Regions from separate parts of the Homo sapiens genome. Here all the other regions are linked to region 1. The links come from fine-mapping of genetic effects on gene expression. A gene starts in region 1. Each other region holds a variant in brackets. All regions are shown on one strand. Distances are between the middles of the regions. Region 1 holds the start of FLYWCH2 (FLYWCH family member 2). Region 2 holds the start of PRSS22 (serine protease 22). Region 3 holds the start of FLYWCH1 (FLYWCH-type zinc finger 1). Region 4 has its middle 6.7 kb from the start of FLYWCH1.

Region 1 (5,144 bases):
AGCCGGGCTTAGTGGCGGGCACCTGTAATCCCAGCTACTTGGGAGGCTGAGGCAGGAGAATCACTTGAACCCAGGAGGTGGAGGTTGCAGTCAGCCGAGATCACACCACTGCACCCCAGCCTGGGCAACAAGAGTGAAACTCTGTTTCAAACAAAAACAAAAAGAAACAGAAAACAACCAAGACTCTTATCAGTCCACATGACAATACTCTGTGAATTCTCACAATGGCTGTAGGAGGTGGGTGCGTTATCACCCCCATTTATCAGGTGAAGACACTGAGGCACAGAGAGGGGATGTAATTGCTCATTCACACAGCTGGCAATTGACACAGCAGGGACTTGAACCCAAGCATCTAACCCCAAGCTTGTGCACTTCCTTGGGGACAATTTGGCTACATGTTTAAAAAGCTTTTAAAAATATTTGCCTCCTTTGACCTCTTTTAAGACTTTCAAGAAATCTTTGGCTGGGTGCGGTGGCTCACACCTGTAATCCCAGCACTTTGGGAGGCTGAGGCGGGTGGATCACGAGGTCAGGAGTTCAAGACCAGCCTGGCCAAGATGGTGAAACTCCGTCTCTACTAAAAATACAAAAAAATTAGCTGGGTGCGGTGGCAGGCGCCTGTAATCTCAGCTACTTGGGAGGCTGAGGCAGGAGAACCACTTGAACCCAGGAGGCGGAGGTTGCAGTGAGCTGAGATCGTGCTACTGCACTCCGGTCTTGCCAACAGAGTGAGACTCTGTCTCAAAAAAAAAAAATCTTTAATATCTCGACAGGCAAGGTGGCTCACATGTCTAATCCCAGCACTTTTGGAGGCCGAGGTGGGCAGATCACCGGAGGTAACTCCGGTTTGATACCAGCCTGGCCAACATGGTGAAATCCCATCTCTACAAAAATATAAAAATTAAGCATGATTACCGGTGCCTGTAATCTCAGCTACTTGGGAGGCTGAGGCGGGAAAATCGCTTGAACCCGGGAGGCGGAGGTTGCAATAAGCAGAGATCACGCCACTGCACTCCAGCCTGGGCGACAGAGCGAGACTCCATCTCAAAAAAAAAAAAAAAAAATCTTTGACATCAGAGATTCATATACAAAGATATTTATAACATCATCAAGTTAAAAACAACCAGTAGTCTGTGAATGATTAATAGATAACAGCAAATAAATGCACAAAGGTAGCTGGGCACGGTGGCTCACTCTTGTAATCCCAGCACTTTAGGAAGCCGAGGCGGGTGGATCACCTGAGGTCAGAAGTTCAATACCAGCCTGGCCAACATGGTGAAACCCGTCTCTACTAAAAGTACAAAAATTAGCCGGGCGTGGTGGCGGGCGCCCGTAATCCCGGCTACTCAGTAGGCTGAGGCATGAGAATTGCTTGAACCCGGGAGGCAGAGGTTGCAGCGAGCCGAGATCACGCCACTGCACTCCAGCCTGAGCGACAGAGCGCAATTCTCGTTTCTAAAAAAAAAAAAAAAGCACAAAGGCCTTGAATGACACCAGACAATGCCCGGGGAGATAGGATAGTGGGATGGGGGCAGCGGGAGCCTTGGTAGCGGAGTCCACGGTGGGATTCAGAGACCTGCAGAGCCAGGGCCGGGAGGGGCAGGGCAGAGGAAGGGCGTGCAGCGACGCTGGCATTCGGACGTGAGAAGGCGGAAGGTGCGGGAGGCCCCAGAGGATCTCGACCTGGACCCTGGAGCCCTGGGGCGGTGGCACATTCAGCGGCCGCTTTAGAGCGAGGGGGGCGGGGCGCGGAGCCAGGCTTAGGGGGACCAAGGTGGCCGGGGTAGTGGGGGCGACCCCGCGGGGCTGGGAGAGCCGCGGTGAGCCTAGGGGGCTGTGCGGGGGCCGCTCTGGACGCTGCAGCCAAGTGTCCCAGGAAAGCAGCGCCCAGGGCCCCACAGCTCCCTGTGCCCGGACCCAGCCCAGTCCCACTGCAGTGGGTGGCTGGAGGATGGCGAGTGTCCCGGGCACCCCTTGGGCCGGGTGAACGTGGTTGGGCACGGAGAGGGCGGGGCCCGTGGGCACGGGTGGGCCCAATGGGCCAGGGCTGGACCAATAACGAGAAAGGATGAATGGACAGGGGCTGAACTACAGAGAGAGGGCGGGACTATTGGGCGAGGGCTGGACCAATGGGCAGGGGCTAAACTAATAGACGAGGGCTGGACCAATGGCGCGGATGAGGCTGCTGCGTCGTCAAGGATGCAGAGCTTAAAGCAAGGCAGTGGCTTCCATGAGCCTAAACACCTTCCCTCCGCACGCTCGGTATCGCGACGGGGGAGAGCAAAACCTTTAAACAAATGCTCCAGTTTTCCCCGCAGAGAGCCGGAGTCAAATCCGTGAGGAAGCCCGGGGGTCGCAGTGAAGCCCAACCCACTGGTGCTGGGATAACCTCGCCCGCAACCCGGATCCAGGCCGCAGGTCCCCCGAGGCTCCGCCCCTGACGGCGACACTCAATCCCGGGTGTCCCCGCCCCCTTACTGAATTTTGGCCCCGCCTCCGCCCTCCGATTGGCCGGACGCCAGCTCTACGCCGCACGGGCAAGACGCGGAGGAGCGGCCCCAGCCAGAAGACAGGGCACCCGCGGCCTTGCTGCGCATGCTCGCGCTGTGACCCCGGCTTGAGGTAACAGCGCGAGCTGAGGCTGGGGCCCTTGGCGCGGAGGCTGAGGGACCCGCCGCGGCGCTGTCGCCGGAGAGGGAGGGCACCGCTGTCGTCGGTGAGGACGGGCCCTGGCGGGCGGGGAGGGTCCTGCGTCCTCGGCATGGACGAGTCCCCGGCCCGGCTCTCTCGGGGGTCCCGAGGGCTGCGGGTGCTGAGGAGGGGTCCGCGTCCTGGTGCTCAGGCCGCCTCCTGTGGGGTCTCCCGCGATTCCCTCTTTGCCTCTCGCCCCTCCTTCCCCACCCCCTCCAGTCCCTTGTCCAAAGCCTCAACACCCCCACACGAAGGAGGTCCGCACTCGCCCGCCGGTCCCTGGCCGTGTCCGCCGCGCCCAGCGCTGCCTTCCCGGCACCCCCCAACCCCCGCCGGCCTCGTCCCACGGTTGCAGCTCGGGAGGTCCCTGCAGGGACGGCAGCGAGTTGGAGGCGTGAGATACTGGGGCGGGGGAGACACTCGGGGCCTCAGGGTGTGGGTATTCTTGAGAGAGGAGAGAGCCGGGGAGCTGGGACCATTTGGGCGCAGCCCAGCCCGCGTTTGATGCCAATTGCATTGGGTAAAGGAGTGAAATAAAGATTCTGAGCCCTGGTGATTAGGGGAAGGAGCTGCCATGGCTGAAATTGCCATGGTGGGGAAGCTCCGCGCTGCACACCTTAGAGTAGCAGTTCTTGGCCTTCTTGGGGCAGGGGTCACTGCCGGTTTTTTAAATCTCCCTGTGAGGACGTGTACTGCACACCTTAGTGTCCCGTCATCCTGTCGGGGTCAATAACAGCCCCGCTGTGGACTGCGTGGAGCAGTAATTATTGGGGAGCAGCTGTCCATATCGTCTGGGAACTTTTGCGATGACTTCACCCTTGCCTGTCATCTATTAACAGCCCCTGATAAATTCACCACTATTTCCGTTACGCAGATGAAACCTGCTGGGAGGGTAAGGGATTTGTCCTCGCGGCTGAGGATGCCGGTGCTGGTGGACATTAGTGATGTTTCTCCCCCGTGCGTATGAAGATGATTCTGTGGGTCCACCATGAGGCACCAGGCAGGGGTCCTGTCGTCCAGAACATCGTCAGTGAGGGATTGAACCTTGTATTAGTTTCCTGTTGCTGTCCTAACAAATAAGGTGGCTTAAAGCAACACAGGCCGGGCGCGGTGGTTCACGCCTGTAATCCTAGCACTTTGGGAGGCCGAGGCAGGCAGATCACAAGGTCAGGAGATAGAGACCATTCTGACTAACATGGTGAAACCCCGTCTCTACTAAAAAAAAAAAAAAAAAAATACAAAAATTAGTCGGGGCCGGCGCGGTGGCTCACGCCTGTAATCCCAGCACTTTGGGAGGCCAAGGAGGGTGGATCACCTGAGGTCGGGAGTTCGAGACCAGCCTGACCAACATGGAGAAACCCCGTCTCAACTAAAAATACAAAATTAGCCGGGTGTGGTGGTGCACGCTTGTAATCCCAGCTACTTGGGAGGCTGAGACAGGAGAAAGGCTTGAACCCGGGAGGCAGAGGTTGCAGTGACCCAAGGTCGCGCCACTGCACTCCAGCCTGGCCGACAAGAGCGATACTCCGTCTAAAAAACAAAAACAAAAAAAAAACTCCGGGTGATTCTTAGGGATAGTGACATTGGGGAACTGCTGTTCATATGTTCATAGACTCAATTTACCTTTTTCTGAATATTTAACAACTTTATTGAGATAATTCACATACCGTGCAATTTACCCATTTAAAGTGTACATTTCGGCCGGGCGCGGTGGCTCACGCCTGTTATCCCAGCACTTTGGGAGGCCAAGGAGGGCGGATCACGAGGTCAGGAGATCGAGACCATCCTGGCTAACACGGTGAAACCCCGTCTCTACTAAAAATACAAAAAATTAGCCAGGCGTGGTGGCAGGCGCCTGTAGTCCCAGCTACTCCGGAGGCTGAGGCAGGAGAATGGCGTGAACCCGGGAGGCGGAGCTTGCAGTGAGATCACGCCACTGCACTCCAGCCTGGGCGACAGAGCGAGACTCCGTCTCAAAAAAACAAAACAAAACAAAAAAAAAAATATACAGTTCAGTGGCTTTAGTGTGATCACAAAGTTGTGCAACCCTCATGAAAATTCCTTTTAGGACATTTTCATCACCCCATAAAGCACATACCCACTAGTAGTCAATTCTCATTCTCCCCTTCCCCACCCCAATCCCGAGATAACCACAAATCTACGTTCTGTCTCCATAGATTTTCCTACTCTGTAGATTCTCTAGACTCTAAGTAATTTCATGTAAATGGAATCATATAATATGTGGTCTTTTGGGTCTGGCTTCTTTTACCGAGCATAATTTCTTCAAGGTTCATTCATGTTGTAGCATAGATTTTTTTTACTGCCAAATAATATTCCATTTTATACATGCACCACATTGTACTTATTCATTCATCCATTGATGGATATTTGGGCTGTTTTGAATATCCATCGAAACGTTTTGGCTTTCATGAATAATGCAACTGTAACATTCA
Region 2 (5,144 bases), 26 kb before region 1:
TTGATGAATTGAATAGCTTCACGGGTCTGGCTGTTGCCTCAAAACATAGCCAGATACTTTTGAAGTAGAAATGAGGCCAGGCACAGTGGCTCACACCTGTAATCCCGGCACTTTGGGAGGCTGAGGCTGGTGGATTGCTTGAGCCCAACAGTTCAAGACCAGCCCAGCCAACACAGAAAAACCCTGTCTCTACAAAAAATACAAAAATTAGCCAGGTGTGGTAGCACACACCTGTAGTTCCAGCTACCTGGGAGGCTGAGGTGGGAGGATCACTTGAGCCTGGGAGGCAAAGGCTGCAGTGAGTTAGGATCACACCACTGCACTCCAGCCTGGGTGACAGAGTAACACCCTGTCTCAAAAAAAAAAAAAAAAAAAAGAAGAAGAAGAAAGAAAAGAAAAGAGAAATGGCCTGAAATTGCCCACCAAGGTTTCTTCTGGATTGCAGCCCATCTTTCCTTCCACCTCTGTCATGCTGTGCCTCTGGCCTCCACCCTTTGTTGCTCATGGTGTCTGTGTCCCTGAGTGTCTGCCATCCTCTGTCCCCATCTGCCCCCAACCACCTTGGAGAGGAAGAAGCCGCACCTCCATCTTGGATGCTCCCCCAGCCTGAGATCCAGCAGTGGGTGTTTGGAGGGAGGTGGATAGAGGCATCAGGTAGGCAGATGGGCAGGACCCGCTCTGAGAACTGTATGGAGCGCTCGAGACGCACCAGGGCAATGTCTGCACAGGCACCTTCCTTCCAGGAATACACAGGGTGGGGCTCCACCCAGGCAACACCCACCTTCTGGGACCGAGAGCCAGGGTTCCCCAGCTGCCAGGCCCCCAGCAGCACAGAGAACAGGTATGGTTTGTTCAGGTTGCTGGAAGGAAAGGGAAGGGGAGGATCAGCCAGGCCTGGTCTGGGAGGAGGTACCTGGGGGAACAGCATGGGTGTGAAGGCCCCTGAAGGCAGGAGAGGCTTCTAGGTAGAATCGAGGGGCACCAAGATTGAACAGAGGCCCGGAAGCAGAGCCTGTAAAGGGAGCCCAGGGCCTGGGGCACAAAGCCCAGGGCCTTAGAAGATCAAGTGCCCCAGGCCGGCTGTACATACTCCTTGAAACAGTGGGCAGCAGTGATCACCCAGCGGCTGGTGAGCAGAGAACCTGCGCAGTGGTGGGTCCCATTCTTCTGGATGCTCACGATCCAGGGCCACTCGCTGTCAGTGCTGTCCTCGCCGCCCACAACCCGGTTCAGCTGCTGGGGCTTCCCACAGGCTGGGGGAACTGGAGGGTACGGTCAAGTTTTGTTATCTCCAACTTCCTACAACCCACCCCCGGAATCCCAATCCCTAGGCCTGCACCCCAAGCTTTGCCCACAGCCCAAGCTCCGTTCATGTCCCCAAGCTCTACCCACATCCCAAGTTTCACTTGCACTCCAAGCTCCACCCACACCCCAAGCTCCACCCACATCCTAAGCTCCACCCATACCCCAAGCTCCGCCCACCTCCCCGTCCCATCCCTCCCTCCATCCTCACTCTCTGCTGGTCCTCACCTGGCCCTGGCCTTTCCACTCACTCCTTGTCAGCTGCACCTGGTCTCTCCCTCCCCCTCTTTCCTTACCCTGCTTTCCACTCTGTTCACCTTCCTGGCTCTCTCTCTCCTCTGGCCCTGGCATCTCTCAAGCCTTTCTCCTTGCATCCGTGTCTCCTTCCTGCCTCCCTTCCCCTCTAGCTCTTTCCCCCTCTCACCCCAGCCCCTTTCTGACCTGTGCCCAGGGGACGGACACATAGACACTGCCTGCGCGTGGGCCTCCTCCCTTCTCCCTCCCGTCAGAGCTGCCAGCTCCACTCACCAGGTATCCTGGCCGCATTGAGGATGGCTGAGGGCAAGAGAAGGAAACGGTTAGGCCGGTGAGGGGCCCCAGGACACAGTGGTGAGGGGCCCTCAACGCCCAGTGAGGAAGGCCCCCAACACCCAGTAAGAAGGGATCCCAGTGCCCAGTGAGGTGGAGGTCCCAGCACCCAGTGAGGAGGGTCCCTCAGCGCCCAGTGAGGAGGGGTCCCAGCACCCCCTGAGGAGGGTCCCTCAGCGCCCAGTGAGGAGGGGTCCCAGTACCCAGTGAGGAGGGTCCCTCAGCGCCCAGCGAGAAGCCCCCAGCACCCAGTGAGAAGGGGTCCAGTGCCCAGTGGGAAGGGGTCCCAGCACCCAGTGAGGAGGGGTCCCCAGCGCCCAGTGAGGAGGGCTCCCCAGCGCCTAGTGAGGAGGGTTCCCCAGCGCCCAGTGAGGAGGGGTCCCCAGCGCCCAGTGAGGAGGGCTCCCCAGCGCCCAGTGAGGAGGGGTCCCCAGCGCCCAGTGACGAGGGGGTCCCAGCGCTCAGTGAGGAGGGGGTCCCAGCGCCCAGTGAGGAGGGGTCCCAGCGCCCAGTGAGCAGGCGTCCCAGCGCCCAGTGAGGAGGGGGTCCCCTTGAGTACCTGGTGGTGAGGAACCTCTAGCCCTCCAGTGCCCAGGGAGACTCTCAAGTCTCTCAACCCCAGGGCCCCTACCGGCGGGGCATTTCCTGGGGCCTGGCCAGGCCCTGGCTGCACAGCTGTGACCCTGCCCTCCCGCAGCTTCCCGTCCAGCCTGCCTTCCGGGGACCAGGACCGGCTCCTCGAGGGAGGCACAGACCTGAGCCCCTCGGCTCTGGACGCTGCTGCCGCTGGTGTGCCCTCCCCTGACCTCCTGCGGCAGGAACAACACAAAACGGTGCTTCCCCAGAGGCAAGCAGCGGAGGACGAGGAGATGGGAGAACACGGAGGCGAGAGGGAGCAGG[C/T]GATGGCGACGCCGACGGTAACTGGAGACCGAGGCGCGCTGCGTACTTGCTGCGTTTTCTGTTTCATCCTCACAGCCGTAGAAGAAACCGAGGCACAGAGCAGTTAAGGAGCAAGAGATAAACAGAGCAGAAGCGGAAAGGAGATGAGAGAGGCAAGGCCAGGAGGGAGAGAGGGAGGGAGGGAAGGAGGGAAGGAGGGTGGAGGTGAGAGGGAGGAGGGAGGAGCAGCCTCCGGACGTACCTGTCGACGCCAGCAGCAGCAGGGAGGTGAAGGTGCCGAGACAGCCCCCACCCAGGGCTGGGGGCGCTCCAGAAACCACCATGGCTGGTGGGGCGGGGGAGCAGGCAGCAGGCTCGAGAGACCCAGGGCGATGCGGGTCAGGGTGTGTAGGTTCCCTGCAGGTCGCCCCAGGTTTTATCCTGGGAGGCGGAATGCCGTCAGACCAGTCCCCAGGTGGCTCCCGCGGCCACCCCGGCTGTGGGTCCTGGGCAGAGGGCGGGGCTGCGGGGAGGAAGCCAGCCGCTACAGGGCTCTGGGGGGGCTCTAGCTGAGACCCCAGGATGTGGCCTCTGGAAGGGCAGGGGAGGGGGCTTGGGCCCAGAGGTCCCTGACATTAATTGTCCAGGGGCAGAGAAAGGTGCCAGGGCACTGAAAGGAAGGGGTTCCGGGCTGGGGAGGGCCTGGGTTTGGAGAGGCTGAAGTCTGGGGTACTGGGTGTTGGGGGTGGTCCTAGGGCCTTAGGGATCAAGGGGGTGCCCAAAGCTCAGTAACGGCTCCCACCTGCAGGGCCCCAGGCCCCTGTGACTCAGCCCAGAGACCTGGCGCAACCCGGGCTTGGGAATCCCGTTAACCCACTTCCCGAAAGCTGTGAATCAGGTGAGTGGCGACCTTGGTGGCCTCCTGGTGGCCGCCCTCCTGTCGTTCCTGGAGGCGGGGCTCTGCCCTGCGGTTCAGACACCTGACAACTCACCTCACCTGGACTCCTGGGAAGGGGAGGAGCCCATGGGCACCAGGGCTCGGCCAAGCAGGGGGGTTGAGAGAAGAGGGGCCCCGGGAAGGGCTGGGACTCCCAGGATTCAAAGAGCTGCTGGGCTGGGCTGTGGGGGGCCGGGTCCTGGGCTGGGAGTGGATTCTCGGTGCTTCCCCCCAGCGGCTGCCACAGTGGCAACCCGGGGCTGAATCCTGTGAGACCTTCCCTGACTCAGTGCCCTGCAGCGCCCCACACTTGGGACACTCCCACCCAAGCAGGGCAGGCTTCCTCCTCTACAAAGAGGCAGGAGCCTGCGCCCCTTCACTCATTCGATCAACAAGCCTCCAGCAGGGCCCTTGCTACCGCCGGGGGTGAATTAAAAACAACCATAGTGTCTGGGTGGGGTGGCTTATTCCTGTAATCCCAGCACTTTGGGAGGCCAAGACGGACAGATCATGAGGTCAGGAGTTCAATACCAGTCTGGCCAACATAGTAAAACCCCGTCTCTACTAAAAATACAAAAAAAAAAAAATTAGCCAGGCATGGTGGCAGGCGCCCTTAGTCCCATCTACTTGGGAGGCTGAGGCAGGAGAATCGCTTGAACCTGGGAGGCGGAGGTTGCAGTGAGCTGAGATCACGCCACTGCACTCCAGCCTGGGCGACAGAGCGAGACTCTGTTTCAAAAAAAAAAAAAAAAAACCATAGTAGTGAATATGTATGTAATAAATATATTTATACAAATATAAATATAGTATTTATATAATAGAGCAAACATTTAGGAGTGCCATGCATTGCCTCCTAATCCTCAAATGTCTTTATTATTCCCACTCTGCAGATAAGGAAACTGAGGCAGCTTAGGGCGGTTAAGTGACTTGCCCGAGATTGCTGGGTGAGTGGTGGAGCCGGACCTGCACCCCAACACTGGGGGTGGCTGCTGGGACTGCCCTCATGGAGGCTTCGGGAGCCTGGAGGAGGTGCCTCACCCTGCCTGGGGTGAGCCCTAACTTGCTCCCTGCAGAGTCAGGGTGGCGTGGGTCAGGGGCTTAGCAGACCACCATGGCTGCTTCAGGGACTCCATGGCTCTGAGCAGGACGGGTTTTGCCCTGGGGGTGGACTCTGTGCTGCCCACCTCCTCAGTCTGTTAAGGGTTAGGGTGGCAGCAGGACGACTGGCACTTTCTCGTGGCAGAGAGGCCATGCCCTGCTCCACCGAGAGACAAGTCAAACAGCAGGGCCCTGGGGAGCCCCAGAGGATGCATTATTCTCTGTCCCAGGACTCAGAGGGGGTTTGGGGGAACTGCAGGAAAAGGCCACGCAGAGTGGCCAAGGAGGGGCAGTGTCTCTGAGCAGCAGCAGCACTGCAGCAGAAATTTCTGCTGGGCTC
Region 3 (5,144 bases), 29 kb after region 1:
CAAAAACTAAACAAAACAAACGAAGAAACAAAAACAGCATCCTGGCCGGGCATGGTGGCTCATGCCTGTAATCCCAGCACTTTGGGAGGCCAAGTCGGGCAGATCACCTGAGGTCAGGAGTTTGAAATCAGCCTGGACAACGTGGTGAAACCCCGTCTCTCCTAAAAATACAAAAATCAGCCGGGCATGGTGGCGCACGCATGTAGTCCTAGCTATTGGGGAAGCTGAGGCGGACAATCTCTTGAACCGGAAAGCAAAGGTTGCAGTGAGCCAAGATAGCGCCATTGCACTCCAGCCTGGGCATCGCAGTCAGACTCCTCTCAAAAAAAGCTGGAGGGGCTGGGCGTGGTGGCTCACGCCCGTAATCTCAGCACTTTGGGAGGCCGAGGCGGGCGGATCACAAGGTCAGGAGATCGAGACCACGGTGAAACCCCGTCTCTACTAAAAATACAAAAAATTAGCTGGGCGCAGTGGCAGGCGCCTGTAGTCCCAGCTACTCGGGAGGCTGAGGCAGGAGAATGGCGTGAACCCGAAAGGCGGAGCTTGCAGTGAGCCGAGATGGCGCCACTGCACTCCAGCCTGGGCGACAGAGCGAGACTCCGTCTCAAAAAAGAAAAAAAAAAAAAAAAAGCCGGGCGTGGTGGCAACTGTCTGTAATAATCCCAATCCCAGCTGCTCAGGAGGCTGAGGCAGGAGAATCACTTGAACCCGGGAGATGGAGGTTGCAGTGAGCTGAGGTCGTGCCACTGCACTCCAGCCTGGGCGACAGAGCAAGACTCCATCTCAAGAAAAAAAAAAAGTAATTAAGTTCTGCTACTATTTTATTTTTGAACAGGGTCTTGCTCTGTCGCCCAGCCTGGAGTGCAGTGGCATGAGCGCAGCTCACTGCAGCCTCCAGCTCCCAAGCTCAAGTGATCCTTCCACCTCAGCCTCCTGAGTAGCTGGGACTACAGCGCATCACCACATCCAGCTAATTTTCTCTTGTTCCTCTTTTCTTTTTTTCTGTAGAGAAAGAGTCTCACTATGTTGCCTAGGCTGATCTCAAACTCCTGGGCTCAAACGATGCTCCTGTCTCAGCCTCCCAAAGTGCTGGGATTACAAGCAAGAGTCACTGTACCCGGCCAACATGGATGAACTTTGAAAGTGCTATGCTAAGGCTAGGCGAAAGAAGTCAGTCACAAGAGACCACATATTTGTTGCATGATTTCATTTATATGAAATATGCAGAATACGCAAATCTATAAAGACAGAAAATAGATCATATTACTTAGGGCTGGGGTGATTAGCAAATTGGAGGGTGGTGGCTAAAGGTTTCTTCTTGGAGTGATGAAAGGTTTTAAAACTGACTATGGTGCTGTTTGCACAACTCTCTGACTATACTACATATCATTTAATTGTACACTTTAAATGGGAGAAATGCATGGTATGTGAATTATATTTCAATAAAGATCTTACCAAAAAATAGTAAGCTGATTGTGTTAACATAGTTTTATGAAAAAGTACAATATTTTCCCAAAGAAATTTAGTGAGACGAGTGACATAGTTATACATTTTTGCAAATATCTTTGTTGCGGGCTTAAAAGAAGACTACTGGCTCTCATACCTGCTTCTACATTCAATGTGTTACATCACACGTCATGCAGACTTTGTAATACTATGTAATATTTCTGCTTTTTTTTTTTTAGACACAGTCTCACTCTGTCGCCCAGGCTGGAGTGCAGTGGCGCCGTCTCGGCTCACTGCAACCTCCGCCTCCCGGGTTCAAGTTATTCTCCTGCCTCAGCCTCCCGAGTAGCTGGGATTACAGGCGCCCAGTACCACGCCCGACTAATGTTCGTATTTTTAGTAGAAACGGGGTTTCACCATGTTGGCCACGCTGTTCTCGAACTCCTGACCTCAGGTGATCCACCCGCCTCGGCCTCCCAAAGTGCTGGGATTACAGGCGTGAGCCACCGCGCCCGGCCCAGGTATTTTTTTGTCGTTGTTGGCTTTCTGATGTAAGAAACAACTGTCCCTTCTCCCCCGTTGACTTATTTCCTTCAGTTTGGACTCATATCGTAGTCAAGGTTATAATCCGTTGCTATCGCTGTTTATTTGAATCTCACACTGGTTCCGCTCTGGGGTAGGGTCACTGGGGGCGTCAATGAGATGCATGAGAATCGCCTTCCCACGGGGTCAGGAAACTGACAGGCCCAAGAGTGCATCTCAGCAAACGCTCCGTTTCCTGCGGGCAGCCTCAGATACTGGGGACCGTCCTGGGGTCTCAATTAAGCGCCCCCTACCCCAGCCCCTTTACGCCAAGAGCGTCCTGTTCAGCTCCCCCATCCTAGCTCCGCCCCTGGACGCCGCCGTCCAATCTCGGGATGGCCCCGCCTTTTCCGTGAGTTACGTCCCCGCCCCCATGCGCTGACAGGCCAGGCCTGCGGCTCGGCGCCGCGCAGGGAAGACCCGGAGCAGCGGTTTACCTAAGGAACGGGCCGCGCGGTCTTGCTGCGCATGCTCTGAAGTAGCGCGCCTGAGCGTTCCGCAAGGCCGGCTCCCCGGCGGGGTCGCGCGCGCGGTCACGGGGCTCGCTCCCGAGGGGCAGGTCGGGGCTGGGAGCTGGTGCC[C/G]GGGTCGGGGTGGCGGCGGCGGCCTGGGTCGCGGGGTCGACGCTCGCTGCTGCAGCGGCAGAGGCTGAAGGATCCGCCGCGGCGCTGTCGCGGGAGAGGGAGGGCCCCGCTGCCGTCGGTGAGGACAGGCCCCTGCGGGCGGGGAATGTCCCGCGTCCCCGGCGTGGACGCGCCCGCAGCCCGGCTCTCCCGGGGGTCCCGAGGGTTGCGGGTGCTGGGGAGGGGTCTGCGTCCCGGCGCTCAGGCCGCCTCCTGTGGGGTCTCCCGCGATTCCCTCCTTGCTCCTCGCCCCTCCATCCCCACCCCCCCGTCCCCTGGCCTAAGCCCGACACCCCCACATCAAGGATCCCCGCACTCGTCCGCCGTTTCCTGGCGGTGTCTGCCCCGCCCAGCGCTGCCTTCCTGGACCCGCAGCATCAGCCCCGTCCCACGGTTGCAGCTCGGGCGGTCCCAGTGACCTTGCACTTTTGCGGGTCGGGACGCACCCCGCTCCCGCTTCTGACCCTATAGATCTCCGGTGACGGCTTTCGAACTTTGTTGACCCACAGCCGACACTGAGAAATGCCTTTTACGCGTGTACTCTGTGCCTGTGGGTCTGGATGACTGAAGCACAAGTTTAAAGGGAGACGCTTGTTTAAGCTCACATGACGCAGCTGGATCTGTTCGGATTAAATTCCGTTCCATTCTCTTCCACCCCGTTCCAAAAGGCTGCTGCTAACCCATGGAGCCTGCACATAACGGGTCTGACGTAGTTGAAACCCTCGCTCTAAACCCTGCCTGTTGTTCCTTTATTCCTTGTACTGGAAGCTGAACTCCCATAGTCAGATAATCATGTGCAAACTCCAATTCCAACGAAATGGCTTATTTTTATTTGCATATTTCTGCTTTCCAAGGGCCAATATGATTTCCAGGGCTTGATCTAGATTTTCTCGTGTGATTATATCATGTTTCTCTTGTTCCTTTCCCAAGTGCTACTGGCGGGACGTGTGGAAGGAACAAGGCTGAGGTTGGGGCTAGATTGCGGAGTGTTTATGACGCCCAGCTGATGATGCACTAAGGCTGGAGATGGAGATGATTTAATTGGGGAGAGACATGCTGAAAGTTAAGCTTTAGGAAGAGTGACCTGTCAGCACCCTATGTGGAGAATTGGAGTGGCTGCTTGCCAAAGCTGGCAAGATCGTTCAGAGGCTTTGGCTTGGGCTAAAGAGGTCGTGGTAAGGGATCATGTCCTGAGTTGGTGGGAGTGGGAAGGAGAGGGAAGATGGGTATATCAGGCATAGAGGGAGAGAGATTTGAGGATGCATTAGGCTGTGGGAAGGAGTAAATAAACTTATATTATGATGGAGGGTGACTGGGGAATACCGGGCTGGGGGGGTCTCATTGGCCAAGCTCTCCCTTTCTGTGCGCTCTAATTTCTAAGTTGCTTTGGAGCTGTGGCTCTTGGGCAATTCTGCACCCCAGGGAACGTTCTGCAGTGTTGGTGGTCACAACGTGTGGTAGGGCATGACAGTGGGATCTGGCAGGTAGAGACCGGGGTTGCTGCTGAACACCCCACGCTGAACAGGACAGCCTCCCACAGCAGAATCATCCGGCCCAAAATGCCAACGGTGCTGAGATTGTGAAGTTCATTTTTAGAGTAAATTTTAATTATCTGGGCATCTCTGCCACCTTCAACCTCTTCAGGAGGAATGTCTGTGTGCACCCACTGAGCCTGTGATGTCACCATAGTGGTTCATGTCTGAGGCAAGTGCACCTCCAACGCTCATGGTTCAGTTGCGGGTAGGTGGGAGGTGGGTAGACACTGGAGTCATCCAGGAGCTTTAAAAAAAAATTTTTTTAGTAGAAATGGTGGGGGCGAGGGGCAGGTCTCACTATGTTGCCTAGGCTGGTCTCGAACTCCTGGGCTCAAACAATTCTCTCACCTGAGCCTCCCAAACTGCTGAGATGACAGGTGTGAGCCACCGTGCCACCGGCCCATTCAGAAGCTTTTTAAACAGAGGGCCTTCCCTCCTCCCGCTCCTATCACTCAGGACCCCTACTGCACCTGGATGCTGAACACCTTGTTCTTGTCTAATGGTCGACAGTTCATGGAATAATTTCACCTGCAGTATTTCATTTGCCACTTTACTTTCTTCACAGGTGAAACCAGCCCAGAGAAGTTACGGGATTTGCCCCCGGGGCTCCTGCCCAGCAAGCCAGCGCCGTGACCCAGGTGTGGGGGATGATGGTGACGCTTCTCACTCACGTGTGAAGGTAATTCTGTGGCTCCATCAGCTGCCGACAGAGCCGCCTGGTTTTCGAGCCTTACTGATTAGAGTTTGGACCCCTTGGTGTCTGAGAGACACCTGACAGTTGCTAACATGTGACCCTTAGGTCTACGCTGAGCCCTTGTGGTCACCAGCAGGACCGCAGCGTCCCAGTAGGCCATCTGGCATTGCACTCAAATTGCTCCGCACCCTCAATTCTGGGAGAAGGGGAGAGAGGACAGGAGAGTGATGCACCATGAACTGAGACTTTGGAGCTTTCCATGCAAAT
Region 4 (5,144 bases), 22 kb after region 1:
GGAGGATCACCTGAGCTCACCTATAGTCCAGCTACTCAAGAGGCTGAGGCTGGAGGATTGCCTGAGCCCAGGAAGTCAAGGCTGCAGTCAGCCATGATGGCACCACTGAGCTCCAGAGTGGGTGACATGATGAGACCCTGTCTAAAAAAATGTATATAAAGTGGATTTTTGTAGGAGGGGGTTGCAATAGCAGCTTACTTAGTTCACTCCATGCATCGACCTGGTATTGCAGTAGCTCCAAGAACGGTGCCCCCCGCCCATGTGTGTGGTTGCTGAGTGTAGATGTCATTAATTTTAATTTTGAAAAGGGGACAAAAATTACAAATTACCTCCAGTAATTCCACTACTTAGAGGTAAATTTTAAAAAATATATGTGTGTGTGTGTGTATATAATATATATACTCTGGCTATATATATATTTATATTTATACATATTTATATATATTTATATATATTTATTTATATATTTATATATATTTATTTATATATTTATATATATTTATATTTATATATTTGTATATATAAACTCTGGCTATATATATATATTTAGCCAGAGTTTCACTCTTGTTGCCCAGGCTGGAGTCCAGTGGTGCGATCTTGGCTCACTACAAACTCTGCCTCCTGGGTCCAAGTGATTCTCCTGCCTCAGTCTCTCCAGTAGCTGGGATTACATGCATGCACCACCACACCTGGCTAATTTTTTATTTTTAATAGAGACAGGGTTTCTCCATGTTGGTCAGGCTGGTCTCGAATTCCCGACCTCAGGTGATCCACCCGCCTCAGACTCCCAAAGTGCTACGATTACAGGCGTGAGCCACCGCGCCCGGCCAAAAAATATATATTTTTAAAATTTTTTTATTTTCAGAAAATCAAGGTGATGCCACACATTTGTTGTTGAGACAGAGTCTCGCTCTGCCGTCCAGGCTGGAGTGCAGTGGGGAGATCTCGGCTCACTGCAACCTCCGCCTCCCGGGTTCAAGTGATTCTCCTGACTCAGCCTCCCGAGTAGGTGGGAATACAGGCGCGCGCTAGCGTGCCTGGCTAATTTTTGTATTTTTAAGTAGAGACGGGGTTTCGCCATGTTGGCCAGGCTGGTCTTGAACTCCTCACCTCAAGTCATCCTCCCGCCTCGGCCTCCTAAAGTACTGGGATTACAGGCATGAGCCACCGTGCCTGGCCCACATATGTTTTTTCATAATGTGTTACAAATGTCTTCCTTCTTATGAATGCTGCACAACATTCTTTTTGCTGCTTGATGCCCACTGCAGGGATGCGTGAAATCCACTAGCTCCAGTGGCCAGACACATCCCGGTTGCCTCCAGGTTGTAAGCAATCCTGAAATAGCCTCGTATGTTCCTAGGACAGAGTTCTAGAAGTGAGATTGCCGAACTGGAAGAATGCAAGTTACATTCAACCCACGTCCTGCGAATGCCGATCTCTCCGGCATTTGTCAACACCTGGTTTTATCATCAAGAAGAAAACAGTAATAACGCGTCCTCCGCTTGGCCCTAGCGTGCACAGCCTCTGCGCTTTTCACCTCGAGGTCTCATTTTCCTTGGACAGCACCGAGCGCTGGGCAGGGCCTCATCCGGGTTCAGGGCCGGAATCTGGAGACGTTCTGGCCGATGCTCCTGACGGCCGGGAGAGGGCGCGCGCGGACTCAGCGGCGGCCCAGCAGCCTCCCCAGGACCCAGGCAGTGCTGGCAGCCAGGAGTGCGGTTCCGCCCCGCAGCCTCAGTCCCGCTCCGCCCACCCGCCTGACCCCCACCCGGGCTCCTTACGGCCCAGACACCGGCTCTAAGGTGGCTTCTGCAGGGATGGGAGGTGGGCGACTGGGAGGGGTGGAGGGGGCCTGTGTGTTGACCCTGCGGGTGGCAGCCGTTGGGAAATTGCAATGGCGTCCACACTGTCGCTGCCCAGGGCGCGAGCCGCAGCCTCTCCTCCCGTCTCGCTTCCTCCGACAGGCGCCCGACTCGGACACACGGCGCCCCTGTGGTTACCACATCCACTGCTTTTTGGTCTCCTCACCCAACCCCTTAACATAAACTCGACACCAGGGAAGGCATCTTGGACGATTTTGGTCCCTGAGGGTCCTAGTGCGAAGGGCAGGGAGAGAGGGAGCGGTGTGGTGCAGGGGGATACAGAACGCGGAGGACATCTAGGGGCTGAGGATGCGGGGACGAGGAGCGCGCGGAAGAGCCGAGGTTCCGGGGT[T/C]GGGGGGTGCGGATTTCAGAGGAACCGCCGGGGATGTGGACGGACTCGGAAGGAAGGGGTCCCAGAGAGGACGCGGGCGGCTGCAGGACACAAGAGGTGCGGGACGCAGGAGGCCGTGGGGTCGTGCGGGAGCCCAGGGCACCTCGACATGGACCCGCCAGACCTGTGGCTCCTCCAGCGGCCGCTTTAGAGCGAGAGGAGGTGCGCAGGCCGTGAGGCGGGTCTCCCTGGGGTCTCCCAGGGAGGAGCGGCGCCCTCCCCGAGCCAGCCGAGGACGCGCAGCCAGAGGGGGGTCGGGCGGAGAGAAGAGTGCGGGCGGACCGGGACGACCCCTGGGTGATAGGAGAGCCGCAGTGAGCCCAGGGCACGGTGCTGGGGCCGCTCTGGCCGCCGCCGCCAAGCGTCACAGGAAAACAGCAACCAGGACCCCGCGGCTCCTGGCGCTTGGACTCAGCCCGGTACCGCACCGCGTTGCTGGAGAATGTGTCCTTGGCGCGCGCTGAGCCAGGAAGGGACAGCGGGAAGGGCGGGGCCCGTGGGCAGGGGAGGGACCAGTGGGCGGGGACCGAATCAATTCGCTAGCGGTGAGCCAGTGGTCGAGGGCTAAACCAATGGGCAAGGCGTGGACCAATGGGCGAGTGCTGGACATCAATGAATGGGGCCTGAACTAATGGGCGGGGTGGGGCCAAGGGGCGGAGCTGAGCCAATAGAAGGGAGCGGAACCAATGGGTGGGGCTGAACCAATGGGCGGGGCGGGGCCAATGGGCTAGGGCTGGGCCGGGGCGGGGCCAATGGGCTAGGGCTGGGCCGGGGCTGGGCCAATGGGCGGGGCTGGACCAATGGGCGGGCCGGGCCAAGGGCGGGCACTAAGCCGACGGAAGGGGTGGAACAAAAGGGCGGGGATGGACCAATGGGCGAGGGATGGGCTGGGCCAATGGGCGTGGCTAGACCAATGGGCGAGCGAAGGGCCAATGGGCAGGGCGGGGCCAAAGGACGGGGTCTGAGCCAATGGAAGGGGGCGGTACCAATGGGCGGGGCTGAACCAATGGATGGGTTGGACCAATGGCAAGGGCTGGACTAATGGACGAGGGATGGGCCGGGGCTGGACCAATGGGCGAGGGCTGGACCAATGGCCACGGGCTGGGCGGTGGCTGGGCCAATGGGAAAAGGAGGATTTCACCTCGTGGAATGCTCAGGGGATGAAGGGAGTATTCCTTTATCTAGCTTCTACTTTGACATAATTTCTCACCTACAGAAAAGTTGCAAGAATCCCAAAAGGAGGTTGACTGGGGTGGCTCACGTCTGTTTCCCAATGCTTTGGGAGGCCAAGGAGAGAGAATCGCTTGAGCTCAGGAGTTTGAGACCAGCCTGGGGAACATAGGGAGACCACGTCTCTAGTAAAAATTAAAATTAAGACCGGGAGGGGTGGCTTACGTCTGTAATCTCAGCACTTTCGGAGGCCAAGGTGGGTGGATCACCTGAGGTCGGAAGTTAGAGAGCAGCCTGACCAACATGGAGAAACTCAGACTCTACTAAAAATCCAAAACTAGCCGGGCGTGGTGGCGCATGCCTGTAATCCCAGCTACTCAGGAGGCTGAGGCAGGAGAATCACTTGAATCCGGGAGGCAGAGTGCAGGGACCAGCCCCACAGGGTCTGTGGGTCTCTCCCCGTGTGCGGCGATGAGAGAGTGTAGAAATAAAGACACAAGACAAAGAGATAAAAGAAAAGACAGCTGGGCCCGGGGGACGACTACCACCAATGTGCGGAGACCGGTAGCGGCCCCGAATGTCTGGCTGCACTGTTATTTACTGGATGCAAGCAAAAGGGGCAGGGTAAAGAGTGTGAGTCATCTCCAATGATAGGTAACGTCACGTGGGTCATGTGTCCACTGGACAGGGGGCCCTTCCCTGCCTGGCAGCCGAGGCAGAGAGAGAGAGGAGACAAAGAGAAAGACAGCTTACACCATTATTTCTGCATATCAGAGACTTTCAGTACTTTCACTAATTTTCTACTGCTATCTAGAAGGCAGAGCCAGGTGTACAGGATGGAACATGAAGGCAGACTAGGAGCATGACCACTGAAGCACAGCATCACAGGGAGACGGTTAGGTCTCCGGATAACTGTGGGCAAGCCTGACTGATGTCAGGCCCTCCACAAGAGGTGGAGGAGCAGAGTCTTCTCTAAACTCCCCCGGGGAAAGGGAGACCCCCCCCCCCTTTCCTGGTCTGCTAAGTAGCGGGTGTTGTTCCTTGACACTTTTCGCTACAGCTAGACCATGGTCCCCCTGGCAACGGGTGTCTTCCCAGACGCTGGCGTCACCGCTAGACCAAGGAGCCCTCTGGTGGCCCTGTCCGGGCATAACAGAAGGCTCGCACTCTTGTCTTCTGGTCACACCTCACTGTGTCCCCTCAGCTCCTATTATGGTATGAGGCCACCACTTCTCCTGTTGTCCTTCCCAGTTTCTCCCCAACCTCCCCTTTTCCCTAGTTTATAAGACAGGAGAAAAGAGAGAAAGCAAAAAGTTGGAAAGAAACAGAAGTAAGATAAATAGCTAGACGACCTTGGCGCCACCACCCGGCCCTGGTGGCTAAAATAATAATATTATTATTAACCCCTGACCAAAACTACTGGTGTTATCTGTAAATTCCAGACATTGTATGAGAAAGCACTATAAAACTTTTTGTTCTGTTAACTGATGTTTGTAGCCCCCAGTCACGTTCCTCATGCTTACTTGATCTATTACGACTTTTTCACGTAGACCCCTTAGAGTTGTAAGCCCTTAAAAGGGCTAGGAATTTCTTTTTCAGGGAGCTCGGCTCTTAAGACACGAGTCTGCTGACGCTCCCGGCCGAATAAAAAAACCTCTTCCTTCTTTAATCCGGTGTCTGAGGAGTTTTGTCTGCGACTCGTCCTGCTACACTATCTCTGT

What was found. PIP is the estimated chance that this variant, and not a neighbour inherited with it, causes the effect.
Region 2: its variant is fine-mapped to the expression of FLYWCH2 in whole blood (TOPMed, PIP 0.99).
Region 3: its variant is fine-mapped to the expression of FLYWCH2 in whole blood (TOPMed, PIP above 0.99).
Region 4: its variant is fine-mapped to the expression of FLYWCH2 in fibroblasts (GTEx, PIP 0.95).

Annotation. Positions count from the first base shown.
Region 1 is chr16:2,880,651-2,885,794 of GRCh38, forward strand. It overlaps FLYWCH2 (FLYWCH family member 2), which reads left to right and starts at 2,565. Exons shown (of 4, transcript NM_138439.3): 1 at 2,565-2,716. RefSeq lists an enhancer at 1,482-1,982 and silencers at 1,711-2,180, 2,681-2,850, 2,941-3,000.
Region 2 is chr16:2,854,992-2,860,135 of GRCh38, forward strand. It overlaps PRSS22 (serine protease 22), which reads right to left and starts at 3,179. Exons shown (of 6, transcript NM_022119.4): 1 at 3,032-3,179; 2 at 1,831-1,857; 3 at 1,091-1,262; 4 at 583-860. The coding sequence starts at 3,113. RefSeq lists enhancers at 2,564-3,164, 3,165-3,765, 3,766-4,365. The variant C/T (reference allele first, on the strand shown) is at 2,791.
Region 3 is chr16:2,909,428-2,914,571 of GRCh38, forward strand. It overlaps FLYWCH1 (FLYWCH-type zinc finger 1), which reads left to right and starts at 2,504. Exons shown (of 10, transcript NM_001308068.2): 1 at 2,504-2,727; 2 at 4,749-4,862. RefSeq lists silencers at 2,255-2,314, 2,365-2,674, 2,695-2,844, 2,875-2,974, 2,948-3,137. The variant C/G (reference allele first, on the strand shown) is at 2,610.
Region 4 is chr16:2,902,701-2,907,844 of GRCh38, forward strand. No RefSeq gene overlaps it. Among named protein-coding and RNA genes, the nearest start is that of FLYWCH1, 6.7 kb to the right of the region's middle. RefSeq lists silencers at 1,639-1,868, 2,539-3,358, 4,525-4,594 and an enhancer at 2,424-2,924. The variant T/C (reference allele first, on the strand shown) is at 2,215.